Linked DNA regions of Homo sapiens. The protein of the gene in region 1 purifies or fractionates together with the protein of each later gene. This does not show direct contact. Each region holds a gene or a part of one and is shown in the gene's direction. Other genes may lie near its edges.

Region 1 (3,500 bases):
TGCTGGGATTACAGGTGTGAGCCACTGCGTCCGGTCCTGTCTCTGTTTTTATCTGAAATTATGTTAGCCTTTGCCTAGTTATGGTGAATTAACCTTAGCATATGATAGTTCTCTTAATGTTTCCCACCACCCTTTTCAGAGTAAGCAATTTGACGTCTACAGCTTCTTTTCCTTTATCTCTTTGGGTAAATAGCAACCAATTTTTCCTGCTACTTTAGATAGTAGGCAATAACAAAATGTATTCATAGCTCTCAGTAATATTTGTTCTATTGTTTTGTTTTTGAGGTGAAAGGGGGGACCCTACCCTCAGAACATGAGGGAATAATATTTACGTGGCTCACAAAGACCAGTGAGTACATCATATGCATCTCTCACAACTCCCCAGAAGAGGGCCTCCAGCACGAGTCTAGGCTCAGCCTTTTCTGTCCCTCCGAGAACTCTATGAATTGCTGCCAAGTGTTTTAATTTTCCTCAGAATTTCTTTGTAATGTTATTGAGGGTTGGAGGTCCTTTTACAAATTTTGGAAATAAGTAAATCAAATGAGAAGACCATGCTTCCAAACAATCATTCTGTTTAACAGATCCCCTTGATTTAATGCAATTATGAATGCGTTAGTGGTAGTGTAGTTTAAGATCTTTCCCTTGAATGTACAGGCTTTAAAGAAACGAACCTAGGAGTGTATTTCCTATCAAGCAAATGGGTTCTAAGACTTTACGCTTTACACATCATTGATTATAGCGCTGTGCTTTTCCCGTGCTAGGCAATGGATCACTTGGAGTCCTTTATTGCTGAATGTGATCGGAGAACTGAGCTCGCCAAGAAGCGGCTGGCAGAAACACAGGAGGAAATCAGTGCGGAAGTTTCTGCAAAGGTATGCTTGGGTGGCTTCGGTGTCTGGTGTGTTCTTAAAAATACTGGCTTGTCAATAGCTTTTTTTTTTGAGATGGAGTCTCCCTCTGTCACCCAGGCTGGAGTGCAGTGGCATGATCTCAGCTCAGTGCAAGCTCCGCCTCCCGGGTTCATGCCATTCTCCTGCCTCAGCCTCCCGAGTAGCTGGGACTGCAGACGCCCGCCACCATGCCCGGCTAATTTTTTGTATTTTTAGTAGAGACGGGGTTTCACCGTGTTAGCCGGTATGGTCTTGATCTCCTGACCTCGTGATCTGCCTGCCTCAGCCTCCCAAAGTGCTGGGATTACAGGCGTGAGCCACCGCGCCCGGCGTTGTCAATAGCTATTAACTGACCCTCAGCACTGATTGTGTGGACAGTACTCTCTGCCTTACTCCAGTTAAGGATAGAGGGCTGTGATCAAGCATTCATGTGTCATGGAATTCTCATCCCTCAGGAGCTGCTACCTCTGTCTTTTTATTCTCTCCATTTTCGTCCTCTGTACATGGTTTATCATTATTTTTTAATTTTAATATATTCTTCGCTGAGTTTGGTGGCTTATGCTTGTAGTCCCAGCACTTTGGGACACCAAGGTGGGGGCAGACTGCTTGAGCCCAGGAGTTTTAGACCTGAGCAACATGAAGAAACCCCATCTCTACAAAAAATACATATATTAGCCAGGCTTGGTGGTGCACATGTGTATCCCAGTTACTCAGGAGGCTGAGGTGGGAGGATCACTTGAGCTTGGGGAGATTGAGGCTTCAATGAGCTGTGATCATGCTACTTTGCTTCAGCCTGGATAACAGAGTGAGACCCTGCCTCAAAAGAAAAAAAAATTATTGTCGGTTTTTTTTTTTTTTTAAGAGACAGAGTCTTGTTCTGTCGCCCAGGCTGGAGGGCAGTGGCGTGATCTCGACTCACTGCAAGCTCCGCCTCCTGGGTTTACGCCATTCTCCTGCCTCAGCCTCCTGAGTAGCTGGGACTACAGGTGCCCACCACCACGCCCAGCTAATTTTTTGTATTTTTAGTAGAGACGGGGTTTCACTGTGTTAGCCAGGATGGTCTCGATCTCTTGACCTCGTGATCTGCCCGCCTCGTTTTCCCAAAGTACTGGGATTACAGGCATGAGCCACTGCACCCAGCCATCTTTTTTTTTTTTTTTTTTTTTTTTAATAAAGATGGAGTCTGTTGCCCAAGCTGGTCTGGAACTCTTGGGCTTAAGCAATCCTCCCGCCTTGTCCTCCCGAAGTGCTGGGATTACAGGTGTGAGCCAGCATGCCCAGCCTCTGCATGTTGTTTTAAACTTTAATATCTCCACATAAAACTGGAAAGAATTGGTAAGGAAATGGTCAAACTGTGGTACATCCATATCATAGAATGAAAAGGAGGTAGATTTATATGTAATTAGACTGAGTGCCATTTACATCACTCTTCTGTTTTTCTCTTCAGTGGAACTAAGCCTCTCCTTGTTTTTTCTTTTCAGTGTTGTAAAAGCATTTCTTAGGATTTATGCAATTGCTAATTTGACCAACGGTGCTATTTTGTTTCAGAAGGTAAATCCTAGTAATTAGGTATTTTGGTTACAGCTTAAATCTGTACATTTAAACCTAGGCATTTTATTACCATACCCAGAAGAAAAAGTCATAAAGAGAGACAGCCTAGACAATGACCAATCTGTGATGATCCTTGGAAGCATGTCGGAAGTGACAAAGGTGCCACTGGTTTCATTGGAACATAGGACTCGTTTATGGTTACAGTCTCAATGCTGGCAGTAAGGATGCCTTCATTGTTAAGTGTGGATCTTTAGCTCTTCCACTTATTTTCAGACTGGAAATGGAGCAGGAGAAACCCTTGTTGCCTTTGCATTCACTTTCATTTTCAGATGTCTGCTTACCTCATTCTTTCTCCTCACAGGCAGAAAAAGTACATGAGTTAAATGAAGAAATAGGAAAACTCCTTGCTAAAGCCGAACAGCTAGGGGCTGAAGGTAATGTGGATGAATCCCAGAAGATTCTTATGGAAGTGGAAAAAGTTCGTGCGAAGAAAAAAGAAGCTGAGGTTGGTGAGATAAGTGCCTTAGGGCAAGAGAAATCTTAGTAATTTGGCAGCGTTGACCGTTGGAATTAATTGAGCCCATGCTTGCTCCCATTTTTTAAAAAATTTATACATTTTGGGCCCAGCACAGTGGCTCACGCCTGTCATCCCAGCACTTTGGAAGGCCGAGGCGGGCGGATCACGAGGTCAGGAGATAAGACCATCCTGGCTAACACAGCGAATCCCCGTCTCTACTAAAAATACAAAAAAATTAGCCGGGCATGGCGCCAGGCACCTGTAGTCCCAGCTGCTCCGGAGGCTGAGGAAGGAGAATGGCGTGAACCCGGGAGGCGGAGCTTGCAGTGAGCTGAGATTGCGCCACTGCACTCCAGCCTGGGCGACAGAGCGAGACTCTGTCTCAAAAAAATTTATAAACGCTGTTTTTGCAAGCAGTTTTAGCTTCATAGCTAAATTGAGAGGAAAGTACAGAGATTCTCCATGTACCCTCTCCTCAGACAGCCTCCTCCATTCCTAGCATCTGCCCACAGTCAGTGGGTCTACGTTGACTTGTCATTATC
Region 2 (3,037 bases), on another chromosome or scaffold:
CACTGACTGACAGCCAGGTGAGTGCTCTTCTTCGTGCCCTGCTCCCTAGTGGCACTGAGGCTTGAGGTCAGGGTGAGGGGAGATTCATGTGACTGCGAGAGTGAGTCGGCCCAAGTACTTCCTAGGTTTAGGATAAACTAAGCATCACAAAAAGGCAGTTTTCAGTTAATTGGTATAACATAGAGAAACCAGACTCAGGAGGGTAAAGATAGACACGCAGATAGCAGCTGAAGTTTGTGGATGTCTGGGAAGCTGGCTGTGCCGACCAGGCTTCTTAGAACTTGATTTTAGGCCGTGCGTGGTGGCTCACGCCTCTAATGCCAGCACTTTGGGAGGCCGAGTCGGGTGGATCACCTCAGGTCAGGAGTTGCAGACCAGTCTGGCCAACATGGAAACCCTGTCTCTACTAAAAATAACAAAAATTAGCCGGGTGCAGTGGCAAGCGCCCGTAATCCCAGCTACTTGGGAGGCTGAGGAGGAGAATTGCTTGAACCCGGGAGGCGGAGGTTGCAGTGAGCAGAGACCGTGCCATTGCACTCCAGCCTGGGCAACAAGAACAAAACTCTGTCTCAGACAATTAAAAAAAAAAAAAGAACTTGATTGTATTTAGCTGAGAAATCGTGTTTTATAAATTCATTTCCCTGCTTTTTAAGAGTTTTTGCATCTTTAACTTAGTTTCTTAGTAATGGGCCTTTTGGGAATTTTAGGCTTATGCTACTCAAAAAAGAGATTTGTTCACATCTACGCTGACGGTAGGGAGCTAGGGAAATACCAAGGGCCAGGCATGGATGGTGCCAGTACCTGTCAATGTGTGTAAAAGTTGAAACTTGGTGGCTAGGCATGGTGGCTCATGCCTGTAATCCCAGCACTTTGGGAGGCTGAGGTGGGCGGATCATCTAAGCCTCCATCTAAGCCAGGAGTTTGATACCATCCTGGCCAACATGGTGAAACCCCATCTCTACTAAAAATACAAAACTTAGTGGGGCATGGTGGCAGACACCTGTAATCCCAGCTACTAGGGAGGCTGAGGCAGGAGAATCACTTGAACCTGCGAGTCGGAGACCACAGTGAGCCAAGATAGCACCACTGCACTCCAGCCTGGGCGACAGAGTGAGACTGTCTCAAAAAAAAAAAAAAAAAAAAACTGGCGGGGCGCGGTGGCTCACGCCTGTAATCCCAGCACTTTGGGAGCCTGAGGCGGGCGGATCACGAGGTCAGGAGATCAAGACCATCCTGGCTAACAACGGTGAAGCCCCGTCTCTACTGAAAATACAAAAAAATTAGCCGGGCGTGGTCGCGGGCGCCTGTGGTCCCAGCTGCTCAGCAGGCTGAGGCAGGAGAATGGTGTGAACCCGGGAGGTGGAGCTTGCAGTGAGCCGAGATCGTGCCACTGCACTCCCAGCCTGGGCGACGGAGCGAGACTCCGTCTCAGAAAAAAAAAAAAAAAGGCTGAAACTAGGAGGGAGAGAGGTGCTCTAAGAAAGACAGGATGCAGTTGTTGAGCCCCCAACCCCTTCCTGTTTAACTGAAAAGCTGACCCTGAGCTAGGAGGCAGGGTCCAGGCACAAATGGAGGCTGTGACCAGGACTGAGCTGCCTATTCTCTGCCTTTCCTACCTGGCTACAGATCGTTCAGAAAGAGGCAGAGCGGGCCGAACGGGCCAAGGAGCGGGAGAAGCGGCGAAAGGAGCAAGAAGAAGAAGAGCAAAAGGAGCGGGAGAAGGAAGCCGAGCGGGAACGGAACCGACAGCTGGAGCGAGAGAAACGTCGGGAGCACAGTCGGGAGAGGGACAGGGAGAGAGAGAGAGAAAGGGAGCGGGACAGGGGGGACCGAGATCGGGATAGGGAAAGGGACCGAGAACGAGGCAGGGAAAGGGATCGCAGGGACACCAAGCGCCACAGCAGAAGCCGGAGTCGGAGCACACCTGTGCGGGACCGGGGTGGGCGCCGCTAGCTGGGAAAACACTAGAGCTGCAGGTACCAGCCACTCGGCCCCAGGGGGTTATGGCCACAGAGGGATAGGCACAGTCTCCACCACCCTGGAGCCAAGGGTCTTTCACATCACCTATCCCTACATACATACCAAATGGAAAAGTGGCCATCCTTTTCCCCCCAAACACACCCCCTTAACCTATCTCTTGGGACTTAGCCCGACCCTCCCTCTCATTTCCCATTAAGTCTGAGAGGCAAGAGCTAGGTTAGGCAAGGAGGTGGTTGGCCAGAGATGGGGAACAGCCAGGTGCCCCAGTCCTCTGATTTTTCCTCCATCCTGCTTACCACCTCCCTGGGTACTTACAGCCTTCTCTTGGGAACAGCCGGGGCCAGGACTGGGTCACCTATGAGCTGAATCAGCATCTCCTCCTGAGTCCCAGGGCCCCTGCAGTTCCCAGTCTCTTCTGTCCTGCAGCCCTTGCCTCTTTCCCACAGGTTCCACTTTATATCCACCTTTTCCTTTTGTTCAATTTTTATTTTTATTTTTTTTATTATTAAATGATGTGGTCTATGGAAAAAAAAATAAAAATCTGACTTAGTTTTAAACTGTGTGAGTGGCTTTCTTTGGGCAGGTTAAGAAGCCACTGTGGATATCTGAGCGTGGACATCTGAGGATATCTGGAGTAGGAGTTGCTCTCATTCCATGTGTTCCTTTAGGCTGACTGCTTCCTGCTTATTGAACTTCCCACGTCTTTTATCCCCTGCCTTGGCCCTGACCAACCCAAAGCTGTGGACCTTCCTCATTCGGGAAGGCATGGAGCAACCTGTGTCCGTGGCGGCACCCCAGCAGGGCTAGGAGGGTGGGTCCTCTTCTGGTTCCTGGTCCTGTGCACGGTTAAATTAGGGGTTTGGTCACCTGCCTGCCACCTTGGTGCCTCCCACAACTACCACCAGGGGGCGGCAGCTCCTCGCTCTGTTGGCCCCTGTAACCGAGCTTCCCAAGAAGGGTTCCACTGCCCGCCTCCGACCTCCCGCCGATGTCGTGCCTCTGTTCCCGACCCGCTCCCTGGGCCCGGGCCTCGGACTCTCTGGACCCTTCTGCCGTC
Region 3 (3,500 bases), on another chromosome or scaffold:
ATGCTCTGGGGAGGTGACTCCCTTCTCTGCTTTACTTTTGTGTCCCCCACCTTCAGGGATGAGCACAGCTCTGACCCATACCACAGTGGCTATGAGATGCCCTATGCTGGGGGGGGTGGGGGCCCAACTTATGGCCCCCCTCAGCCCTGGGGCCACCCTGACGTCCACATCATGCAGCACCATGTCCTGCCTATCCAGGCCAGGTAAGGGTGGGGCTTCTCAGAAGAGGGTTGGTAGGCCTGGGGGATGGATGGGGTTGCTGAAGGCCATGGCTGAAGCCAGGGAGCGGGTCAGGCACACAGAGGCATGTCCCTGGGGTAGGGGTGGTAGCTGTTGGGGTTTGGGGTGATGTCCATGGTGGACAAAGTAAAGGGGCCCCAGCTACTTTGGCCCCTGTAGCCTCCCACCGTTCCCCAAAAACCAAGCCTTCCTGACCGGGGTCCCCTCCAGGCTGGGCAGCATTGCAGAGATTGACCTGGGTGTGCCGCCGCCCGTGATGAAGACCTTCAAGGAGTTTCTCCTCTCCCTGGATGACTCGGTGGATGAGACGGAGGCCGTCAAGCGCTATAATGACTACAAGCTGGATTTCCGGAGGCAACAGATGCAGGATTTCTTCCTGGCGCACAAAGATGAGGAGTGGTGAGTGCCCCTACTTCCCTGGACCTCTGCCCTGGCATGTCCCCCTGGCCCCGCTGGTGGAGCCACAGCCCTGTCCTCTTCCCAGTTTTCCCTGTCCAGAACTTTCTGGGGGCGGGGGTCGGGAAGTATGACAGCATTGGCTGATGGGGTCTCCCCCTCACTTCAGCAACTGCCACGGCCCCCGCCCCGCCCTGTCTCCTGTCCTGCTGTCCTCAGAGAGTGGGACACCTCCAGGCAGCAGGCCAGAGCCACTTGGCCCCTTGGGGCAGCAGACAGACTGCTTCCCACTTGTTGGTGTTGGGTCATTGTCATCCCTGATCACCAGGACCCTGTGTGGCTGTGGCGTCCTCCTAAAGCGACGAGTGAATCCAGACAAGAAAAGCAAAGATCTCGGTCGTTTGACAGAAAAAGAATTTTAATTTTTTTTTCCTTTTGTGGATGTTTTAATTTTAATCAACCATCTTTTCCCCCCTTCCTGCTCCTCCTCCTCCTCATCCTCTTTCTGCTCCTCCTCCTTGAAAAGAGCCAGAACTGGGAACTACACCCGCTCATCGACGGAGCTCGGAGCAAACCCACCTCCACCCCCACCATACCCAGCCCATACATGAGCCCCTGGGCTGAGCTGCGCGGCCCCGGCCAGGCAGACAGGCCAGGGCACTGCTGTGCACAATGCAGCGGTTTAGCTGAATGTGATTGCTCAGGCAGCTAGCCAGTCAGGCCCCACTGCGGAGTCCCGCGTGGGCATCTCGGCCGGGCGCCCAGCCAGGAGCCAGCCGGTGGCCCACCAGCCAGCATGGGCCCTGGGCGCCGCTAGTTAAATCTTGAGCTCTGTTTGACCAAGCGGCCAAGGTAAAGATCCTGGAGGTGATGCCTGCGGCTTTCCTTTCCTCTTCTGCCCCACTCGTGGTTCTGTTCTGTCTTCGCTGTCCCCTCTCTCGAATTGCTCTGTGTCTTTGTCCTAATCTCTCAGCACCTTCATTCTTCTCTGTTTCTGTTCTTGCTCCCTGCCTAACACCACCTTCTTCCCTGTTGGTTTTTTTAGTTTCTCTCTCTGATCTTTAGTTTTTCCCTTTGTTTTCGGTTTCTGGGACTTTCTCACACTCTCCCCTTTCCTCCCTTTCCCCTTTTCCTCATACTCCTCATTTCTTCTGTTTTCCCTCTGAGGTCCTATTTGAAATGTTTTATTTTTCTTCTCCCTAACCTTCCAGCCCTCTCCTCTCTCTCCCCCTGTGGGCAGGACCTGAGGCTCTAAAGGGCACTCCAGTGTCTCCCTTCGGTCTTTCCTGTCCCTTCACCGTCTTGCTTATCTTCCCACGGGTGGAGAAAGGTGCCCTGCCTCTGGGCTTTTGCTATCTGGCCCTCTGTCTTCCACCTCGGGGTGGAGGGAGTTGGCGGGAGCAGTTTTTGAATGACTGCAGTTTGGGGTTGGTGAGGAGAGGGAGGTTCTTCAGGGCCTGCTATTTCCTGAGCCTTCCTCTCTGAAGCTTTGGGAAATGACACCTTTTTACTACGTTAGTGTTTCCCAGAGATTTAAAGTGGTAAATCTGCCTCTCCTACCCTGGCGTCCCCCTGTAGTCATTGGTCTTCCCAAATCCAGAGCTCTTAGTTCCTGGTTCTCCCCCAAATCTTCACAGAACACAACTTCTGGTTCCTTTTGGGGTGTTGGGTGGTTCTAGCGCACCCCTATCCCTTAATCTCTCTATTTTGATGACCTTTTGTGGTTGTGAGAGGAAGGGGGATATGCCCTGTCTTTCCTGGGCCCCTTCCCACATCCTGGCCTTGGCTTCCAATAACTGTTTTGTCTTTCCCTCCCCCGCTTCGTTCCCAGGTTTCGGTCTAAGTACCACCCAGATGAGGTGGGGAAGCGTCGGCAGGAGGCCCGGGGGGCCCTGCAAAACCGACTGAGGGTCTTCCTGTCCCTCATGGAGACTGGCTGGTTTGATAACCTTCTCCTGGACATAGACAAAGCTGATGCCATTGTCAAGATGCTGGATGCAGGTGTGCGGATTTGGAGGGGTGGCAGGCATCTGGGCCCCATGGGGGTGGGGGTGTCTGGGGATCAGGTAGAAGCCGGTTGACAGGAGCCAGGGCCCTGGGGTCATGACCTCTGTTCCCTTTGTTGGTAGCCGTGATTAAGATGGAAGGAGGCACGGAGAATGATCTTCGCATCCTGGAGCAGGAGGAGGAGGAGGAGCAGGCAGGAAAGCCTGGGGAGCCCAGCAAGAAAGAAGAAGGACGGGCTGGAGCAGGCCTAGGGGACGGGGAGCGCAAAACCAACGACAAGGATGAGAAGAAGGAAGACGGCAAGCAGGTCCGAGCCCTGGGTCTCCTAGTGTTGTCCCTGGCAGCCTGGGGGAGGGGGGCGGGTAGGGGTCCATAGGAGCTAGAAGTAGGGGGCTGGGGAAAATGAACCTGTGGCCTCAGCTGTGGGGGTGGGGGCCCTCTGATAAAGGTGGGAGGGGAGGTTTGACATCCCCAGTGGTTGTCTCTTACCATAGGCTGAGAATGACAGTTCTAATGATGACAAAACAAAGAAGTCGGAGGGTGATGGGGACAAGGAAGAGAAGAAAGAAGACTCCGAGAAGGAAGCCAAAAAGGTGAGGTGTCTGTGGCCTGGGGTCAGAGTGTTGGGGCTGGGGTTCTGGCACGCTGACTTGTCCCCTCTGCTGTGGCTCACACAGAGTAGCAAGAAGCGGAACCGGAAGCACAGTGGTGACGACAGCTTTGACGAGGGCAGCGTGTCAGAGTCTGAGTCGGAGTCAGAGAGCGGCCAGGCTGAGGAGGAGAAGGAGGAGGCCGGTAGGGTTTCTTTTCTGCTTTAAAGTGCGTTCTCCTAATGCGGGTGGGGAGGTGAGAGGTTG
Region 4 (3,967 bases), on another chromosome or scaffold:
TAAACTAGTATTATCAAGGCAAAAAATATATACACAAAAAGAACTGGGTTAAAAAAAATTTTTTCTATGGACTTTTAACGTGATAACTCATGACACAGGGGTTAGGATCTTCAGTTTTCCTTTGGAAGTTAATAAAAACCACTATAGAGAAAAACAAGATTTGCTAGTAAGAAGGTGAAAACTGCTTCTCCTCTCAGGGTTCTAGTTCTCTTGCAACCTAAAACAAAGGAACCAGACAGGATATCCACTTTCGTACCGTACAGCTCCAAACACTAATCAATCACTCCATTCACTTATCTTTTCTATTTCCTTGTATTCTGTCAAACAACTGTCTCTTGGTTTAAATACTTTTCTGCTGGTCTTCGCTCTCTCTCTCTCCTCTTCTGGTTTATTTTCATCCAGATGTGGATTTTCCCCAAAGTTTCCATCTTATCCTTTTCTCCTCCTGTGTATGCGCCACTGAAGTCAAGATTGCCACATTCAAACTCCCCACACATTCACACACCCACTCCCAATATACAGTATCTCGCCCAATGTTTATCACTCCGGATACATTCCTAGAATCCAAAGATCTGGAGCAGGGAGAAAAAGAAAAGGCGCCTACCAGATGCCTGGAACAGTCTACTAGGCACTACAAGTACATTAGCTCTTTCAATGCTCACAACAGCCCAGCCAGATGTTATCTCAATCTTACGGATGAATAAATTTAAGACTTCTGGCTGGACACTAGAGGCTGGCGAAGTACGTGACCTTTGATCAGAATCTCCTGGAGGAGTGGGGTCCCTGACCATTGTACCTTCCAGAGAACCTTAAAACTGAGATCCCAGGAGACCCCTCTCGGATACTCTGCAGAAGTCAGAGTGACGATATTAGCAAGCACACCGCAGCCATGCGAACCCTTCCTGGCTCAGCTCCCGACAAAAGAAATCAAGCCCCCAGTCAAAATACAACAACAACGGATTAGGCCTACAACCCTCTCCCCCGGCCCCCAAATTCTCAGGAGAAATCCCCTAAGAGTCAGGTACGGAGGTCACTGCAGCGACTTCAGCGTGCAGAGAACGCGGGGACCTAGGAAGAGGACGCTCCAGCCCAACTGAGCGTCTCTGATTGGCCGCCAGCTCAGCTTGGAACGCTGGGGTGCGTGGCGTCATATCCGCCGGGCCCGCCATCTTGTTCCCAGGGGCAGTTGGCGGAAGAGATCGAGCTCCCTGGCTGCCGGCTCGCCTTCTGCGTGGAGTTCTCGCGGTCTGGGTTTCGCTGTCTGCTCTTGGCCCGGGGTCATTTTGTCGGCGTCGGGTGCCCTCTCTTGCCCAGCTGGGGCACAGCGAGGCGGCCCCTTCTCCCGACGACGTTCGATGGAGTAGGGTCCCAGACCGTTGTCCCGAAGAGCGAGATCGAGCTTGGCCCCCTCCCCCCCCTCCTTCCCTCCCTCCTTCCTTCCGCCGCAACATGGCTAACAACAGCCCCGCGCTGACAGGCAACTCGCAGCCGCAGCACCAGGCGGCTGCAGCTGCGGCTCAGCAACAGCAGCAGTGCGGCGGCGGCGGCGCTACCAAGCCGGCGGTCTCCGGCAAGCAGGGCAATGTGCTCCCGCTCTGGGGCAACGAGAAGACCATGAACCTCAACCCCATGATCCTGACCAACATCCTGTCGTCGCCTTACTTCAAAGTACAGCTCTACGAGCTCAAGACCTACCACGAGGTGGTGGACGAGATCTACTTTAAGGTACGAAGTGTGTAGGCCTTGGCTTTGGGGGTAAGTTCGGAAGAGGGGGTATGGAGGAAACGGGCGAAGGCGGCCCCCGAAATCTGAAGATTTGTGGGTGGGGGAAGGTGGTTCGGCGGAGGGGTGGCTGCGGCCTGTAGTGTGTCTGGGAGGGGTCGGACTGGGGCCGCCCTCTCGTTTCCATTTTAGATTTTTAGGGCCGGGAGAGCCCGCCACTATTGATCTCTCTCCTCCCCCAACCTCCTGCCCACCCCTGGGGGGAGTTGGGCAAGAGGGATGGGGGAGAGGAGGAAAGAGTAACAGAAGCCTTTCCAGTTTACAGCTTTAAAATTATTCCTTTTGACGTGGATCTGCTGAGCGCCAACTTGTTGGTGCTTCTCCCGCTCACCCCTGGCCAGGGCGTGTAATGACTTCAGTATTGGCCTCGTGTTGTTGGTACTCACTATCCGATCCAGGCAGGGAAATGGTCAGTGCGTGTGTGTCGGGTGGGGTGGGGGGATGAGGGTGGAGAGGTGCCATTTCAAGAGGTGTACAGAAGGCCTGGAAATTTTCCCAGCAGGAAGTCAGGAGTAAGAGGTCTCAGCCACCTGTGCATTGGGCTAATTTAGAATTATCTGGGCCCTGGGCTTCTGCGGCAGGGTCGGTGCTGGCTTGGCTGTGCTGGGGAGCTCACCTGGCGCCTCCTCACTGCACTCTTGTCTCAGTTCTTGTTTCGTTAGCAGGATTGACTCAGTCTTGCAGCGAGGCTCGGAGCAGCCCAGGGTCGCAGGTAGAGGTATGCACTATTAATCATGCTCAATCGCCATAAATGCATTTCCCTGGTTAAATGAACGACTAATTAGATTTTTGTGGGTTTTTTTGGCCATTGCTTTTGGTCCTTCACCAATTAGGTAGGCTTTTTCCACTTCCCTGCAAATTATGTAGTATAAAAAATACCTTCCAGGCCTCCGAAAGTTAATTTCTATTTTAAAGAATATTAATAATAGCCTTAGTGGTCTTTAAAAATTTTATCCGGAGCATCTAATACACAATCCATTTTTGTCTATATTCACTCTTAAAAACTTGACAGACCGCACAAAGTGTTTTCTATCATTTGAACGTATGTGTAGAGATGGTAACAAAAGGACATTCTCTTTTGTCTTGCCCACCTTTTCCCCCAGTTGAGTAATTAGGTTATTGAAGGATTTTGAGAGATTAGTTGCTTTTTATAGAAAACATCTCTTGAATACAGTTCAACTTTGGGTTGATAAAGTACACAAATAAATTTGGAATCCTCTTACGAGAGTAGGTCTGATTGTAATTCTATGAATTAGTTTTTTTAGCTTTTAAAAGGTAAGACCTTTTTAGCATGGATACAGTATGGTGAATAACATTTAATCCTTAGCTTTATTTATGCAGTAAACTTTAAACAGTTGAAAATTGGGTTCCTGCTCTTTCTGCGGCAGGTTCTGTTTTCTAACATAGGCAAAATGTTAATGTAATAGAGGAAAGTCTCGTTTTTAAGTTTCAAATGTGTTTTGAAACAAGATTCTACCAGGAATTGTTTTTAAATTCCGTTAAAAAACTAAAGACCCAGTTTTTTTACTAATATTAAGAAGACTTAAGACTTTCAGATCAAATACTCACTGAAATTTATAAGTTTCCAACTTTGTAATTTTATTTTGTATGCATCCAGCCCTGCCTTTGGCTAGCTTTTAAGGAATTGAAACATCTTTTACATGGCAATCTGTGGGGAAGAAAGGAAACGTTAAAGCACTGCAAAATAGTGTAGTGCTTAAACTTACATGCACGCTTTTCTATCTAAAGCCATTGTTCAGGACTACAAAATTTACCATGTGGGTGGAAATAGAATTTTAGAAATATGCAGTGAAAAAACAGGATTTTTTTTTATGTTTTTAAAAAAAAACAAAGATGGGTCTTCCCAAAAGACCTTTTTGGATTCTATTTTAGAGTTAATATTCTTTTGTTGTTGTTGCTGTTGTTGTTGCTATTTTTAGATAAGGACTAGTTTTTGTAAGATGTTCCTCTTAGCAAATATGATACTGTATCATCTTTGATGATACTTAGTATATGCCAGTGACTATTCACACTCAGTTTTTGACACAATTTATATTCTGGGGAATAATTGGATTGGTTCACACATAATTAGGCTGAAGCTTAATTACAACAATGATCTCTGTAAGTGTGGCCTTTGTAATTTTATCTTTAATCAGGAATAAACCTGACCCTGGTGGAAAAAATG
Region 5 (3,500 bases), on another chromosome or scaffold:
AGTGGAGCGATTACGGCTCACTGCAACTTTTACCTCCTGGGTTCAAATGATTCTCCTGCCTTAACCTCTCGAGTAGCTGGGATTACAGGCATGCACCACCATACCTGGCTAATCTTTGTATTTTTAGTAGAGATGAGGTTTCACCATGTTGGCCAGGCTGGTCTTGAACTCCTGACTTCAAGTGATCCACCCACGTCAGCCTCCCAAAGTGCTGGGATTACAGGCATGAGCCACTGAGCCTGGCCTGATCATTGTTATGAACTTTTTGACTTTAATATAGTGGCCAGGAATACTAGGAAGTGTATTTATAATACCAGGAAATTTGCAGCAGAGATGAAGATCTACCTAATATAAATAGGTTCAGTGTCACTAATGCAGCAGAGATGAAGATCTACCTAATATAAATAGGTTCAGTGTCACTAAAAATTACAGACATGTAAATTAAAACAACATTGGGAAATTATTTTTGCCTATTAAATTCACAAAGATTACAATGATTTATAATATACACAAGCTGGGTAGGGTATGTTGAAATAAATACTCATAGAGTATTGAAGAATAAAAGGTACACAACTTTTTTTATAATACAGTTTTTTAAATAATACAGTTTCTGTTAAAATGCTACATGTTCATAATTTTTGACCCAGAAATTCAACTTCTAGATATGTATCCTACTGAAATATACAGATACTGAGGCATCCAGAGATACAAGTACAAAGTTACAAAGTTGTTCATTGCAACATTGTTTGTTTGTTTGTTTTTTTTTTTTTTGAGATGAAGCTTCACTCTTGTCCCCCAGGCTGGAGTGCAATGGCACGATCTCAGCTCACTGCAACCTCCACCTCCCGGGTTCAAGCTATTCTCCTGTCTCAGCCTCCCAAGTAGCTGGAATTACAGGTGCCTGTCACTGCGCCTAGCTAATTTTTTGTATTTTTAGTAGAGACAGAGTTTCACCATGTTGGCCAGGCTGGTCTCAAACTCCTGACCTCGGGTGATCTGCCTGTCTCGGCCTCCCAGAGTGCTGGGATTACAGGTGTGAGCCACCATGCCCGGCCCATTGCAGCATTGTTTCTAAAGGTGAAAATGTGAATACAGCCCAAAAGTTCATCAGTAGGATATTGCTAAAATAGATGCTGGTGCATCCATATGAATAAATTATATACAGTTTAAAAAAATTAAGTAGCATTTTATCTATAGATGTGGATAGCTAAGATACACTAAATTTATCAAGTAGGTTACAAAACCCTACCTATGTAATATCCACGTTATAAATAAATACATAAAGTCATAGTATATGCTAGTGTAATGTGAGTATGTGTGTATTAAAAAAAAAAAGTGGCCGGGTGTGGTGGCTCACGCCTGTAATCCCAGCACTTTGGGAGGCAGAGGCTGGCGGATCACCTGAGGTCAGCGAGTTCAAGACCAGCCTGATCAACATGGTGAAACCCTGTTTCTACTAAAAATACAAAAATTAGCTGGGCATAGTGGCAGGCACCTGTAATCCCAGCTACTCGGGAGGCTGAGGTAGGAGAATCGCTTGAACCTGGGAGGTAGAGGTTGCAGTGAGCCAAGATCGCTCCATTGCACTCCAGCCTGGGCAATAAGAGCAAAACTCTGTCTAAAAAAAAAAAAAAATCTGACAGAATATTTACCAAACTCTTAGCAGTGAATTATTTCTAAGTCACTAGTATTAGGGAAGCTTTTACATTTTATGTTAAATATTTTCTGTCATGTTTGACTTTTTTTTTTTACAGTAAGCATGCATTGTTAAAATCATCAAAGTAAGATTTAAAAACATGCAAAAGGAGCACAGACTAGATGTTGTTGTGCTATCAGTTGCAAGTATGAGCTGTACACTTAATTTTCTCCCCCTTTCTCAAATAGAATGCCCAGTGTTTACATGGGGACATTGCACAGTCACAAAGAGAAATTACACTAAAAGGCTTCAGAGAAGGTAGTTTTAAAGTTTTGGTGGCAACCAATGTGGCTGCCCGTGGTTTGGACATTCCTGAAGTTGACCTGGTGATTCAAAGTTCTCCTCCTCAGGTAGGAAATGGGATTTGATTTGGGAAAAATAAGAGCAATTTTATAAATTCCCATTTAATTTACAACATATTGCTTGGGATGTGAAAAATATGTCATCTCTTCTTGCTCTTAGCCATTTTTTGTTAGTGTGCTATTAAATTTATCAGATTCTGATACTTTTGCAGATGATTAACTCTATTGTTTGTATTTGAAGCATGGAGCAACAAAATCAGGCAGAGAATTACAAAAAGTTGCCATAAAGAAACCTGGGATGAGGTGGATTAAAAGGTTTTAAATCATATTGCCTTTACCCCAAAATCCACACATATAAATTGTTTGGAATGTTGAAAAGGGCAACAGGATTGAAATAAATATATTATTATTAACATTATTATTTGGATTCCGGAATGACTGCAACTTGCTAGATTTTTAAAAAATATTACCTTTTATAATCTTTAGGATGTTGAGTCCTATATCCATCGCTCTGGACGCACAGGTAGAGCTGGACGGACAGGGATTTGTATATGTTTTTATCAACCAAGAGAAAGAGGTCAACTAAGATATGTGGAACAAAAAGCAGTAAGTAGAGTTAAATTATTTCAGGCTTATTGTCTAAATGGTGCCTTAAAAGAGAGCTCTTCTTATATTTATTCTTACAAGTAGGTCTTCATAACTTTTCTCAGTTTAAGCTGCATTTGGCTGTGAAGCCTGTGGAGATCTAAATTTATATTAGCTTCAAGACTTTAATACAGCTTTTATTGTGAAGACAGTGGAGCTGACTTTCTCATCTTTTCCTTGAATTTCTCTCTTCATACTAAAATCAGAAGTGCATTGTGATTTCAGTACTTCTTAGTGTAAATGGGTGACTAAAAGATTGTCTTGGTATAATAGTTAAGATTCTTTTAAGTATGGTACAATAGACAGTTTCTAAAGAAACTGTACATTTTCTGTGGTCTGGATTTTTTGTGGTATTTCACATTTTTTCCTATTTTTATATGTGTTTTTATATGCAATTTCATATACTTTGTAAAATGAGATAGTGTAATAAGGAAAAAAGCTGATAGATTTAAACATCTGTTTTGTTTTGTTTTTTTTTCAAATCAGGCTTGTTTTACAAGTGAAATTCCATGATTGTAACTAAGGGGCAATTCAAAAAATTATTTTTCTCTTTCTGAAATTTGTAATTGATGATTTATGAGAAAAAAAAGATCTTGGCTGGGTGCAGTCACTCACGCCTGTAATCCCAGCACTTTGGGAGGCGGAGATGGGCAGATCACTTGAGGTCAGGAGTTTGAGACCAGCCTGCCCAACATGGTGAAACCCCATCTCTACTAAAAATACCAAAATTAGCTGGGCATGGTGGTAGACACCTGTAATCCCAGCTACTATGGAGGCTGAGGCAGGAGAATTGCTTGAGCCCAGGAGGTGGAGGTTGCAGTGAGCCAAGATCACGCCACTGCACTCCAGCCTGGGCA
Region 6 (4,090 bases), on another chromosome or scaffold:
GGCGGCCTCCTATCCCCGGGGCCTGAAGCCACGTAGCCCCGCGATGCCAGAGGAGGGGCACTGGGTGGGGAGGGAGGTGGAGGAGCCGTGCAATCCCAACCAGGATGTCTAGCACCCCCATCCCCTTGGCCCTTCCTCATGCTTCTGAAGTGGACATATTCAGCCTTGGCGAGAAGCTCCGTTGCACGGGTTTCCCCTTGAGCCCATTTTACAGATGAGGAAACTGAGTCCGGAGAGGAAAAGGGACATGGCTCCCGTGCACTAGCTTGTTACAGCTGCCTCTGTCCCCACATGTGGGGGCACCTTCTCCAGTAGGATTCGGAAAAGATTGTACATATGGGAGGAGGGGGCAGATTCCTGGCCCTCCCTCCCCAGACTTGAAGGTGGGGGGTAGGTTGGTTGTTCAGAGTCTTCCCAATAAAGATGAGTTTTTGAGCCTCCGGGGTTTCGTCTGTTCTGGGCTTGGGAAACGCCCTAGTCCCTTAGTAGCAAAGAAAGCCTCCAGGCTGGGGGCTCAGGCCTGTCATCCCAGCACTTTGGGAGGCCAAAGCAGGAGGATCGCTTGAGCTCACGAGTTTGAGACCAGCCTGGGCAACATGACGAAACCTAGTCTCTACAAAAAATACAAAAATTAGCCGGGCGTGGTGCTGCGCGCCTGTAATCCCAGCTACTCTAGAGGCTGAGGTGGGAGGATCGCTTGAGCCCAGGAGGTGGACGTTGCAGTGAGCCAAGACCGCACCACTGCACTCCAGCTTGGGCGACAGCGCGAGGCTGTGTCTCAAAAAAATAAAAAATGAAAATGAAAATAAAAAATGAGACCGGGCATGGTGGCTCATGGCTGTAATCCCAGCACTTTGGGAGGCCGAGGCAGGTGGATCACCTGAGGTCAGGAGTTTGAGACCAGCCTAACCAAAATGGTGAAACCCCATCTCTACTAAAAATACAAAAATTAGCCGGGCTTGGTGGCGCGCGCTTGTAGTCCCAGCTACTCGGGAGGCTGAGGTGGGAGAATAGCTGAAACCCAGGAGGCAAAGGTTGCAGTGAGCCTAGATCGCGCCACTGCCTTCTAGCCTGGGAGACAAAGAGAGACTCCGTCTCAAAAAAATAAAATTAAATAAATAAATAAAATAAAAAAGATAAAAAGATAAAGCATCCAAGCTCTTCCCTTCTCCGCTCTCCCACTTCTTCCTCGGGATCCCGCCCCTCTCGACTCTAGGACCCGCCTCTCTCGTCGGCGGAAGTGCGCTGCGCGGCCCTCCACCATGCTCCGCCCCCTCCCCCTAGCGCGGCCTTTCATTTCCGCTTCCGGTGCGGGCCGCGCGCGAGCGCAGCGGTGGGAGGCGGCGACCAGCCGGTGAGTGCAGGCTGCGGCTCGACCTCCCGGTTTTCGGGCAGGCCTCAGCCCAGCTTCTCCCTTTCCTCAGGCTCTCCCCATGCTGCTGTGGGCTTCTGCTGCGTCCCGGCCCCGAGGATCGCTCGTCCCTCACCCCATTAGGCCTGACGGGCCTCAGGCCGAGCCCGTGCCCCGGCTGTGGGCCAGAAGTTGCCGCGTCGAACTCGGCCTTCGGCCCAGCAGCTTATCACAGGCCCCGCCCCCTTGTCAAAAAAAAAAACAACAAAAAAAAAACCCAGCCCAAATCCTCAGGCCGCGACGCGATCCACAAGCCCCGTCCAAACCTTCGGTCTCCGCCCTTTCCCGCAAGCCCTGCCCCCAAGCTCAGCCCACGCCCTCCTGTCAGCCAGCTCCGCCTCTCTCAGGCTCTACGCTCTTTTTCTTTGGATGCTCTCCCCACCCCGCCATCTAGATCCCATCTTTAGACCTCAGCTTCACTCTGGTCTCCTTGCAACACTCCCTCCCCGTGTTCCCACTCCCTCTAGCATCTTCATCTTCCGCCACGCCCTTCACCTGTCCTCGACCTCCACCTTCATACAACTGCACTGTTCCCTTAAAAGCTTTCTCCGATTTCCTCCACCTGCCTTCATCCTTATTCTCCTTATCCCTCTACCACCCAGACTCATACCCAACCCCACGCATGGCCCCTAGTGGGAGCCTTTTCAGTTCTTCTCTTTCTCTTGAGCTCCAGCCTTAAGTGCTCAGGGTTTGCCTTCTGACCCTACTTCAAACACTGCTGATGTTTCAAAACCTTTCATTCCCGACTCCAGCGCGTGGAATCTAGGACACCCCTTTCCCAGTGATGCTCACCTCAGAATCACCTGAGGGTTTTTCAGAATGCCCAAGCTTCTAGATCGAAGTTGTTAGGGATGGACTTGAACATCTGGCATACTGTTCTGCAGCTTCACTTCTGCTCCCTGAAGCTAAGAGATGTGTTGTTTGGGATCGACTCTGCCACCAACTTGTTAGATGACTTTGATTCTGCCCATACGGGTTTCACAGACCATCTGACTTTCCTGGTCCCTTCATCCCTCAGGTTGAGGCCCCAGGCTTGGCCTCACCACAATGTGGCACGAGGCTCGGAAGCATGAGCGGAAGCTTCGAGGCATGATGGTCGACTACAAGAAGAGGGCGGAGCGGAGACGGGAGTATTATGAAAAGATCGTGAGTAACTGGCCTTTTGTCTGGGGTGAGGGACCCTGGGTTGGGGGGCACAGCTGGTCATCCTGGTAAAATCTGGGCTTGGAAGTATGTCAAGACAAGAGGCTCATTTCCTCAGGAGTATATTCATTAATCTTTTCTTGAGGATAATCATTGGTGGGATCCCAAGGGCTTCTGTTTGTTGTAGCATACTGTGTCGTTTGGTGTGGCCTCCCAGTGCCGATCCGGTGTTAGCAAGAAAAAGGGAAGTCTCTGTAACCCTCAGAGCAGTCCTGACGTTAGACTGGCCACCTCCAGAATGTCTGTTTCGCTTATTGCTGTGTTCCCCATTCCCAGAAGAGCTCAGCCACTCTTGAGATTTGGCTTGGCACACAATAGGAGTGAGTATTAAGTTGGCCTGGCACAGTGGCTCACGCCTGTAATCCCAAGTGGATCACCTGAGGTCACGAGTTCGAGACCAGCCTGGCCAAAAGGGTGAAACCCCATCTCTACTAAAGATACAAAAATTAGCCAGGCTTAGTGGTGTGTGCATGTAGTCCCAGCTACTTGGGAGGCTGACGCACGAGAATTGCTTGAGCCCGGGAGGAGGAGGCTGTAGTGCATGGAGATTGTGCCACTGAACTCCAGCCTGGGTGACAGAGCAAGACTCAACGCCTGTAATCCCAGCACTTTGGGAGGCCGAGGTGGACAGATCACAAGGTCAAGAGATCGAGACCGTCCTGGCTAACACGGTGAAACCCCATCTCTATTAAAATACAAAAAATTAGCCAGGTGAGGTGGCGGGTGCCTGTAGTCCCAGCTACTCGGGAGGCTGAGGCAGGAGAATGGTGTGAACCGGGGAGGGGGGCAGAGCGGAGCCTGCAGTGAGCTGAGATAGCACCATTGCACTCCAGCCTGGGCGACAGCGAGACTCTGTCTCAAAAAAAAAAAAAAAAAGACTGTCTCAAAAAAAAAGGAGTGAATATTAAGTGAAACCTGACCACTTCCCTCTCCTGTCTGATGCTTCAGTTGTTTTTGCGGGGAAGACCAAACTATCCCTGGCCTAAAAGACCCTTGTGGTCTGACCACTCAGCTTCATACTCGGACAGCTCCACTGGCCTTCTATTTCTGCCACCACAGGGCTTTGGCCTATATTACCCCCCCTCACCTATTTAACTCCTGTGTATCCTTGGGATCCCAGCTTGAAATGGCACCTGTTTTCTAGGTTCAGTGTTCCTGTCAGATGACATTTATATAGACCTTTCCCAGTTATTCCTGTATTACTGCCCCAGCCTCCTCCCTGGTCTGCTGGCCTCCAGTCCTGGCTCCTCCAGTCTGTCCTTCCTAGAAGAGTCCAAGAGGCCTTTCTAAAGCACAAAACTGACCCTGTCCCTTCGTTGCTCAGAGCACCTCTATGCCTCCTAAGTGCCCTTGAGAGAAAGCCCAGGCTCCTCACTGTGGCCTTTAGGGTCCTGCATGGCCTGGCCTTTGCCCTTCCTCCAGACTCACACCACCCCACACTCTGCCTTGTTCCTTTGCACAAGTCATTTTGGCCTC
Region 7 (3,500 bases), on another chromosome or scaffold:
TAAGTCTTTAGGGAGATGTGTGTGTTATTAGATGTGAGAATCATTATTTGCCCTTTCACAGCATTGTGGGTTTATTTCAGAGAAACATTTGATGAATTGAATGGTTATCAGTGAGTAGGGAAGTTTTCCTTTCTTGGGCTTCTTGGATGCTTTATCAAGAAGTCATATTTCCAGTGAACAAAATTAACTGGGCATGGAGGCATGTGTCTATAGTCCCAGCTACTTGTTAGGCTGAGGCAAGAGGATCGCTCAAGCCCAGGAGGTTGAGGCAAAAGAAAAAAAGAAGTCCTACTTCCAGAAACTCAGACTATAGACTTCTAACATTTTTTTCCTCTTTTAAAAAATAATGTTTCTGAGATTCACATTGAATATGTTTAATCTTTTGAAAATGCACATTTCATTGGTTTTTAGTATATTTACAGAGATGTGCAACCATTACCATTTTACTAATTTTAGGATAATTTGATCATCCTACACCCATTAGCAGTCACTCTTTATTCCAGCCTTCCTCCAGCTCCTGGCAATAACGAATCTGCTTTGTCTCTGGATTGGCCTATTGTGGACATTTCATGTAAATGGAATCCTGTAATGTGGTCCTTTGTGATTGACTTCACTTCTTTCACTTAACATAGTGTTTTCAAGGTTCTTTGTGTGGTTGCGTGTAGCCGTTCTTAGTTTTGATGGCTGAATTATTGTCTTTGTATGGCTAGACCACATTTGTTTTTCCATTCATGAGTTGATGGACACTTAGATCATTTCCAGTTTTTGGCTATTATGAATAAGGCTGCTAGGAACATTTGTATATAGGTTTTTCTGTGAAGATATGTTTTCCGTTACCTAGGAGTGGAATTGCTGGGTTACATAGGAACTCTGCTTTACGTTTTGATGAACTGCCATACTTTTCCACAGTGGCTGCAGGATTTTACATTTCCAGCAGCAGTGTATGGGAGCCAGGGTAGGTTCAGAAGACATTGTGTTAGAAACTTTAACTTTATTGGAGCAAAGTTTGCTTCTAATCATTTCCATCTCTTTTAAATTTCCATCTTTTTAAATGTGGTTTTAGGGTGTGAGGCATGTTATAAGGTAGACATAATTTGATCCCTATCTTCAGCGTACTTTTGTGAATTTAGGCAGGATAAATCTCTATACGTTATATCTATATATTGAGGTAGTAGAACCTACCTCTGAATATATGTATATATGTTTTTTCTTTTAAAGGTTTAGGAAAAGACATGTTTAGTGATGATGTGAGATTATGGATGACATTGCTCTTCTGCAGTGTTATTTTTTTTATTTTTATTTTTTTTTGAGACAGAGTCTTGCTTTGTCCCCCAGGCTGGAGTGTAGCAGTGCAGTCTCGGCTCACTGCAGCCTCTGCCTCCCGAATAGCTGGGACTACAGGCATGCACCACCACGCCTGCCTCAGTTTTGTATTTTTAGTAGAGATGGGGTTTCGCCATGTTGACCAGGCTGGTCTCGAACTCCAGGCCTCATGTGATCCACCCAACCTTGGCCTTCCAAAGTGCTGGGAGTTTTCTGCATTTTTATGTTTCCTATAATCATGTTTTTTATAAGTTAAAATATGATGTCCACACAAAAATTGGTACATGAATGTTCTTGGCAGCATTATTTATAATAGCCCCAAAGTGGGCTAATCTAACCTAACCTAAGTGTGCATCAGTCTATCAAGCTGAGTAGTTGAAAAATCTCGATGAAGTTGTTTTTCTTTAAAGGCATAAGAGAGTTTACGTGCCTGTCACCCTTATTTTCCGACAGGTTTTAACTAGGGTCTTAACCTCATGTAGAAACCAGAAATAACAAACAGTATGGAAAACCGTCTTTAATGTAGTTGAGCTCCAGGTTTGGGGTAGAGAAAATTGGGTAATTTTTCAGTTCCCGAAGTTGAGTCCTCATAGTTTGATTTTCTAGTATTGTTAAGTACCACCGCAAAAACAAACAAACAAAAAAAAAACACCACACCTGTGTTTACTTGTCAGCAAAGCTAATTTTCGTGTCAGCTTGGGAACATTGTTTTTTCAGTTGACTATTTGATTCTTTGACTGTGAATCATTAACTGTTGCTCAAGTTTTTCAGGGTTCAATGACTGGATTCCACTTGTTCTCTCTCCACCTTCTCTAGTCGTGCATTGAGGCCCATGAGAAGGACATGGAGCTCTCATTTGCCGTGCAGCGCAGCAAGGACATGGTGTGTGGGATCTGCATGGAGGTGGTCTATGAGAAAGCCAACCCCAGTGAGCGCCGCTTCGGGATCCTCTCCAACTGCAACCACACCTACTGTCTCAAGTGCATTCGCAAGTGGAGGAGTGCTAAGCAATTTGAGAGCAAGATCATAAAGTGAGACTCCTCCCCAGTCTTCATTTGTGCTTTCTCTTTTGGGGAAGAATTTAGTAACTTGTGCCAACTTTCAACCAGATGGACCGCATTTAAATGCATGCATTTTATCTTGAAACTGGGATATTCTAATGGGGATTTCTTCTTTGTATTTCAGCTAGCTTCTAGGTTAGTTGGTCTATCTACTTTTATTTGAATGAGGAAACCCTGTGTATCAGTTAGAATCTTCGTGCTTTTTCTGAGGAGATTGTGTTTAATGGATTATTAGCCAGTTTAGGCTCAGTGAACAAACTGATCTAGCTCTGAATGTATGTTTCCTGACGTTTTACATTTCCACTTTCCTATTCCATTCATTAAGCTAGCCAACAATCCACCATCCTTTAAAGATTGTTCTCATAACTGAACAAAAACCACATAATCTAAACAGAGCAAAGCTACAAGAAATAAATTTATTTAAACGAAAGAAAAAGGAGTCTGTGTGAAATGTCTTCTTTTGTTTTTGTTTTTTACCTAAGTTATATTTTTCAAAAAAAAAAAAAAAGAACTGGCTAGCCCTTGAGTTGGATTTATAAAGGAGGTTGCCTTGCTTGAAAGAAATGGTCAGTTGTGTGACAGTATGTGGAACCCTTTCAGGAAATGCCCACGTGCCTTTCAGTTAAGTCTTTAAGTCTGGAGGCGACACACCAGGGTGTGTCCTTGAAGAGTGGGCCTGTAAAAGGGGAATTTGCATTGCAGCCTGTTCATTGTTTCCCAGGTCCTGCCCAGAATGCCGGATCACATCTAACTTTGTCATTCCAAGTGAGTACTGGGTGGAGGAGAAAGAAGAGAAGCAGAAACTCATTCTGAAATACAAGGAGGCAATGAGGTATGAGCACTGCAGCCTTTTCTCAAGCGAAGAGCCCAACAGAGCTTGGGTTCACTTTGAAAAGAATGGTGCTGCATTATACACTCCTACCTCCTTCCTACCCTTCTTTGACTTCCCAGGACAGTTTATTTTGTCACCCTGATAACATCCAGTATATATCTTGCTATAACACAGTCCTTGGGGTCCATGCCAAGGGACTGTGTTATAAAGAGGTCTCTACTGTTGACAAGTAAGGCCCCATGAGTGGGGTTCTACCTTATTCTGAATCCGTGTCATAGCTGTCC

The links.
Region 2: the proteins of LUC7L (region 1) and ACIN1 purify together in Homo sapiens (affinity purification with mass spectrometry; 3 studies listed by BioGRID and IntAct, with this or other methods). This does not show direct contact.
Region 3: the proteins of LUC7L (region 1) and SRRT purify together in Homo sapiens (affinity purification with mass spectrometry; 3 studies listed by BioGRID and IntAct, with this or other methods). This does not show direct contact.
Region 4: the proteins of LUC7L (region 1) and PRPF38B purify together in Homo sapiens (affinity purification with mass spectrometry; 3 studies listed by BioGRID and IntAct, with this or other methods). This does not show direct contact.
Region 5: the proteins of LUC7L (region 1) and DDX50 purify together in Homo sapiens (affinity purification with mass spectrometry; 3 studies listed by BioGRID and IntAct, with this or other methods). This does not show direct contact.
Region 6: the proteins of LUC7L (region 1) and CLASRP purify together in Homo sapiens (affinity purification with mass spectrometry; 3 studies listed by BioGRID and IntAct, with this or other methods). This does not show direct contact.
Region 7: the proteins of LUC7L (region 1) and MKRN1 purify together in Homo sapiens (affinity purification with mass spectrometry; 3 studies listed by BioGRID and IntAct, with this or other methods). This does not show direct contact.

What each region holds. Positions count from the first base shown.
Region 1 is NC_000016.10:205,450-208,949, reverse strand, and holds part of LUC7L (putative RNA-binding protein Luc7-like 1), read left to right. Parts: intron 1-285; exon of another isoform or gene 286-349; intron 350-761; coding exon 762-872; intron 873-2,802; coding exon 2,803-2,946; intron 2,947-3,500. UniProt on the Homo sapiens protein: May bind to RNA via its Arg/Ser-rich domain.
Region 2 is NC_000014.9:23,058,064-23,061,100, reverse strand, and holds the end of ACIN1 (apoptotic chromatin condensation inducer in the nucleus), read left to right. Parts: coding exon 1-17; intron 18-1,626; coding exon 1,627-1,953; 3' UTR 1,954-2,537; downstream 2,538-3,037.
Region 3 is NC_000007.14:100,881,603-100,885,102, forward strand, and holds part of SRRT (serrate RNA effector molecule homolog), read left to right. Parts: intron 1-56; coding exon 57-203; intron 204-450; coding exon 451-639; intron 640-2,467; coding exon 2,468-2,637; intron 2,638-2,765; coding exon 2,766-2,950; intron 2,951-3,137; coding exon 3,138-3,236; intron 3,237-3,320; coding exon 3,321-3,438; intron 3,439-3,500. UniProt on the Homo sapiens protein: Acts as a mediator between the cap-binding complex (CBC) and the primary microRNAs (miRNAs) processing machinery during cell proliferation.
Region 4 is NC_000001.11:108,691,143-108,695,109, forward strand, and holds the start of PRPF38B (pre-mRNA-splicing factor 38B), read left to right. Parts: upstream 1-1,167; 5' UTR 1,168-1,449; coding exon 1,450-1,725; intron 1,726-2,447; exon of another isoform or gene 2,448-2,500; intron 2,501-3,967. UniProt on the Homo sapiens protein: May be required for pre-mRNA splicing.
Region 5 is NC_000010.11:68,932,315-68,935,814, forward strand, and holds part of DDX50 (ATP-dependent RNA helicase DDX50), read left to right. Parts: intron 1-1,884; coding exon 1,885-2,046; intron 2,047-2,484; coding exon 2,485-2,604; intron 2,605-3,500. UniProt on the Homo sapiens protein: ATP-dependent RNA helicase that may play a role in various aspects of RNA metabolism including pre-mRNA splicing or ribosomal RNA production.
Region 6 is NC_000019.10:45,037,755-45,041,844, forward strand, and holds the start of CLASRP (CLK4-associating serine/arginine rich protein), read left to right. Parts: upstream 1-1,290; 5' UTR 1,291-1,354; intron 1,355-2,429; 5' UTR 2,430-2,458; coding exon 2,459-2,557; intron 2,558-4,090. Other genes in the region: transcription factor RelB, read left to right, coding at 1-36. UniProt on the Homo sapiens protein: Probably functions as an alternative splicing regulator. May regulate the mRNA splicing of genes such as CLK1. May act by regulating members of the CLK kinase family.
Region 7 is NC_000007.14:140,455,506-140,459,005, reverse strand, and holds part of MKRN1 (E3 ubiquitin-protein ligase makorin-1), read left to right. Parts: intron 1-2,139; coding exon 2,140-2,354; coding exon of another isoform or gene 2,355-2,358; exon of another isoform or gene 2,359-2,791; intron 2,792-3,105; coding exon 3,106-3,216; intron 3,217-3,500. UniProt on the Homo sapiens protein: E3 ubiquitin ligase catalyzing the covalent attachment of ubiquitin moieties onto substrate proteins. These substrates include FILIP1, p53/TP53, CDKN1A and TERT.